2 separate regions of the Homo sapiens genome follow, and region 1 is linked to region 2. The links come from fine-mapping of genetic effects on gene expression. Tissue or cell type: spleen. Region 2 holds a variant in brackets; the other region holds the start of a gene. All regions are shown on one strand. Distances are from middle to middle.

What was found. PIP is the estimated chance that this variant, and not a neighbour inherited with it, causes the effect.
Region 1: it holds the start of PPIL3, and the variant in region 2 is fine-mapped to the expression of PPIL3 in spleen (GTEx, PIP 0.94).

Annotation. Positions count from the first base shown.
Region 1 is chr2:200,887,927-200,890,426 of GRCh38, reverse strand. PPIL3 (peptidylprolyl isomerase like 3) reads left to right here and starts at 1,350. Exons shown (of 7, transcript NM_130906.3): 1 at 1,350-1,471. NIF3L1 (NGG1 interacting factor 3 like 1) reads right to left here and starts at 1,056. Exons shown (of 7, transcript NM_001369441.2): 1 at 775-1,056. RefSeq lists enhancers at 273-522, 781-1,525, 1,413-1,662, 515-1,714, 1,783-1,832 and 1 more.
Region 2 is chr2:201,249,400-201,252,161 of GRCh38, reverse strand. It overlaps a transcript of CASP8 not described here. Among named protein-coding and RNA genes, the nearest start is that of CASP8, 9.8 kb to the left of the region's middle. The variant G/T (reference allele first, on the strand shown) is at 1,619.

The sequences.
Region 1 (2,500 bases), 360 kb after region 2:
TTTGAAGTGATACAGGGTCTCCAAAAACCACTCGAGGTCTTGGAAGTTTGTTTTTGTTTTTTTCTTTTTGACACAGGGTTTCACTAGGCGCCTAGGCTGGAGTGCAGTGGCGTGATCTCAGCTCACTGCAGCCTCGACTTCCTGAGCTCAAGCAGATCCTCCCACCTCAGCCTCCTGAGCAGCTGGGACTACAGGCGCTAAACACCACACCTGGCTAATTTTTGTATTTTTAGTAGAGATGGGGATTCGCCATGTTGCCCAGGCTGGTCTCAAACTCCTGCGCTCAAGTGATCCACCTGCCTCGGCCTCCAAGAGTACCGGGATTACAGGGGTGAGCCACTGCGTCCGGCCTTGAAAGATCTTCTAATGGTCCTCATAGTACTCCATTCTCCAGCATTTTCTACATCTGGCAAGCTCGAAAGTGAAACCCTAGTGGGCCATCATGCAGGTTTTGAGTTATTTACTGTTACAGATGAGGAAACTGCGAAGCTACATGGCCACAGTCAACAACGACAACAGAAGGCAACATAGTATGGCGGTTAAGAGCACCGACTCTGAAGCCAGCCTGAATCCTAGAGCCAGAGCTGTGCAACAGCAGGTAAATGACTTATCCTGTGCAGTTTCCTCCTTAATGGAAATAGTGCCCAGGCCACAATATCGCGAGATTTACACGTAAAGCTGGAAACAACTCCCGTCCTAGAGTAAGCACTGTTTACTATTAAGCAGCATCAGTAGGGCCCCTTTGCAACCTGCAAACCGCTCCCTCGACGTTACCTCATCTATGCCTCATTTCAGTGCCACTTCAGGCCTTTTCCAGGACAGTGAAAAACCACGAGACACAGCCAGTTAAGTCTGAGTCAGGACCCCTGTCCCACTAGTGCGCTGTGCTCTGGTGCGGCAGGGCAGTTTTCTGACCCAATCTCCTCTTCTGCTGTCCTCTGCAGCACCAAGATAACAATCACAGCCGGCCCCAACCGGCACCTACCGCGAAGGTCACAACTACACTCGCGGGTTTTTAAATCGCCCACTACTCACCAGTCCCGGAAACTTCTCTGCGTCACTTCCGGTCCCGCGTCGGCGCTCCGGATGCTGTGGCACTTGGCTCCCCGTAGCGGGAGAGCTGGGCGGAAGTGGTCCTTTCCGTTTGGCAGCCGAGTGTAAAGCATTGCTTGAGGTTGCCCAGGTAGTTTCGCCTTACACTTCTTGTCCCAGTGCAATTATTAGTAGAGCTCCCTTTCACTGTCAAATTTCCGGTTGGGGATAAATTGCATTGTCGTTTTGGTTTGAGATAGGAAGATGAGGGGAGGAAGGAGGTGAGGCGGTAAGGGGCGTTCTCTCTCTTGGGTCCCGCGCCCAACTTCCGCTGGCCCAAAGAAACTATAATTTTGAACCAACAGACCTCTGCTGGCATCTGCGATTGCATTTTTCCTGTTTTAACAACGGCTGTGCTAGACGAAGTGGTGAAGCCCAAGTATGGAGTAACGTCATTAATTCTTTCATTCACTTATTCGAATGCTTGCTGAGTTCTGTGTTGCTACTGGTTTAGTTCTTGGGATACTGCGAGTGAACAGTGGGCGGCGAGGCTGTTGTTGCAACGTCAGAGTAAAAGAAGGACCCTGCACGGCGGCCTCCCAGCACTTCGGGAGGCCGAGGCGGGCGGATCACCTGAAGTCAGGAGTTCGAGACCAGCCTGGCCAACACGGCGAAACCCCGTCTCTACTAAAAATACAAAAATTAGTCGTGCATGGTAGCGCGCGCCTGTAGTCCCACCTACTCGGGAGGCTGAGACACGACAATCACTTGAACCCGGGAGGCGGAGGCGGAGGTTGCAGTGAGCCGAGATCCTGCCGCACTGCACTCCAGCCTGGCGACATAGCGAGACTCCGTCTCAAAATGAAAAAAAAAGAGAAGTTCATAGTATATTAGTGATAAGTGCTGTGGTGGAAAAAAAAAAGTTCATAGTATATTAGTATAAGTGCTGTGGTGAAAAAAAAAAAAAGCGAATTTCATAGTATATTAGTGATAAGTGCTGTGGGAGAAGGAAATAGGAATGTCCTAGGGCTGAAGGGCTAAAGCAGTTCTGTGTAGGATTGTCAGGTCAGTTAAACTTGACATTTAAGCAGAAATTTGGAGGTGAGGAAATTAGCCGTAGAGATGTCTGAGTATAAGAATTCCAGGCAAAAGGGACACCCAATGCCTGGACCCTAAGGGAAGGTATCTGGGTTATTGGGGGACTTGCAAGGAGGCTCTTGAAGAAGAGCAAGCCGGGCAAGTAGGAGATTGGGAGGCTTGAATCGGGTAGGATATCTTCTATAGCCGGGTTTTTATTACCTAGGGGATGCCATTAGAGGATTTTTTTTTTTTTTTTTTTTGACGGAGTCTCGCGCTGTCACCCAGGCTGGAGTGCAGTGGCGCGATCTCAGCTCACTGCAGCCTCCGCCTCCTGGGTTCAAGTGATTCTCCTGCCGCAGCCTGCTGAGTAGCTAGGACTACAGGCGCC
Region 2 (2,762 bases):
AAAACATATACAGATGGCAAATAAGCATATGAAAAGATGTTCAACATCATATGTCATTAGGGAATTGCAAATTAAAACAACAGTGAGATACCACTACATATTTGCCAAAATTGCTAAAATCCGAAACACTGACACCACCAAACATTGGCAAGGATGTGAAGTAACAGGAACTCTCATTCATTACTCGTGGGAATGAAAACTCATACGGACACTTTGGAAGAAAGTCTGGAAGTTTGTCATGAAGCTTTTTTTTTTTTTAGACGGAGTCTCACTCTGTCTCCCAGGCTGGAGTGCAACGGCAAGTGTGATCTTGGCTCACTACAGCCTCTGCCTCTGGGTTCAAGCGATTCTCCTGCCTCAGCCTCCCAAGTTGCTGGGATTACCGGCATGACCACCACGCCCAGCTAATTTTTGTATTTTTAGTAGAGACAGGGTTTCACCATGTTGGTCGGGCTGGTGTTAAACTCCTGACTTCAAATAATACACCTGCCTCCGCCTCCCAAAGTGCTGAGATTACAGGTGTGAGCCACTGCGCCTGGCCATTTTTTTTTCTTTTTTTTTTTTTTTGACACAGAGTCTCACTCTATTGCCCAGGCTGGAGTGCAGTGGCGCCATCTTGGCTCAATGCAACCTCCACCTCCCAGGTTCAAGCGATTCTCCTGCCTCAGCTTCCTGAGTAGCTGGGATTACAGGCACACGCCACCACGCCCAGCTAATTTTTGTATTTTTTTTAGTAGAGATGAGGTTTCACTGTGTTAGCCAGACTGGTCTTAAACTGCTGATCTCAGGTGATCCCACCTCAGCCTCCCAAAGTGCTGGGATCACAGTCATGAGCCACCGCGCCTGGCCAAAGCATATGCTTACCGCAAGATCCAGCAATCACGTTTCTAGATATTTACCCAAATTGAACATTTATGTCCATGCAAAAACCTGCACATGAATGTTTATACCAGCTTTATTCATAATTCATAACTGCCAAAAGTTGGAAGCAACCAAGATGTCCCTCAATAAATGAATGGATAAACTGTGGCACATCCATACCATAGATTATTATTCAGCAATAAAAAGAAATGAGCTATCAAACCACGCAAAGGCATGGAAGAGCCTTAATTGAATGTTACTATGTGAAAGAAGGCAATCTGGAGAGGCTACATACTGTATGATTCCAACTATGTGACATTCTGATTAAAACTATAGAGACAGTGGTTGCCAGGGACTCAGGGGAGGAAGTGTGAATAGGTTCAGCACAGGGGATTTTTAGGGGAGTGAAATTATTCTGTACAATATTGTAACGGTTCTACATGGCATTATTCATTTGGCAAAACCGGTAGGATGTACACCAAAAGTGAACCCTAATGGAAACTATGGAACTTTAGTTCAGAATAATTTATTGATGGGATTCAGGACGTGCTACCACAAAATATGGCACCACGACTGACATGGTTTGGATTTGTGTCCTCACCCAAACTCATGTCCAGTTGTAATTCCTAATGTTGGAGGCGGAGCCTGGTGGGAGGTGATTGGATCTTGGGGGTGGTTTCTAATAGTTTAGCACCATCCCCACAGTGCTGTTTGCATGATAGAATTCTCATGATATTCTGGTTGTTTAAAAATATGT[G/T]GCACCTCCCCGCTCTCTTGCTTCCCCTGCTCTAGCCACATGAGATGTCTCGCTCCCCCTTTGTCTTCCACCATAATTGTAAGTTTCCTGAGGCCTCCCCAGAAGCCAAGCAGATGCCAGCATCATGCTTCCTATACAGTCTGTGGAACCATGAGCCAATTAAAACTCTTTTCTTTATAGATTGCCCAACCTCAGGTATCTCTTTAGAGCAATGCAAGAACAGACTAACACAATGACATATTGAATATTTTAAGGTGAAGGAATTTGCAAAAGCAGCATGTGCAGGAAGGGTTTTCTGACCTTCTCCTGAAGCCAGGTCATAAGACCCTCAGGTGAGAGATGCCCTCCCTATACCTGGTGGTATCTGTGAAGACAAAGGGACACAGAGAGGAATCTAACTAAACAAACGGGCCTTGATAAGCTTCTGCCAGCGGACTACACTTACTTCAAACTCTTTGCTCTATCATATCCTCCACAACTGTCCACCCTTTATCAAACCTACATCAAACTGTAACTGCTTCTTGGAGTCTTCATTTCCTTATAAAGGCTTCCATGTCACATAAAACTTAAATATGTTTATGCACTTTTCTCTTATTAATCTGTCTTCTGTTATAGGGTTCTCAGCCATGAACTTAGAAGGGTAGAAGGAAAACAGATTTGCCCTCCCCTACAATATCAATATTGGTTCATCACTTGTAACAAATGTACCACACTAATGCAAGATGTTAATAACGGGAAAGTGTGGGGAGGGGAGAAGTGTAGGAGGCAGAGGGTATATGGGAACTCTCTACTTTCTGCTCTTTCTTTTTTTTTCTTTCTGAGACAGGGTCTCTCTCTGTCACCTAGGCTAGAGTGCAGTGGTGTGATCTCAACTCACTGCAACCTCCGCCTCCCGCGCTCAAGCGATCCTCTCGCCTTAGCCTCCCGAAGCCAATCTGATTAAGCTAATCTGTTAAGACTCAACAATAAGAAAACAACCCGATTGAAAAGTGGGCAAGAGGTCTGAACAGACACCTCACAAAAAGATACGCAGATGGCAAATAAGCATATGAATAAGCTGGGACTACAGGTGCATACCACCATGCCCAGCTAATCTGCTCTGTTTTTTCTCTAAACCTGAAACTGTTCTTAAAAAATAATCCAT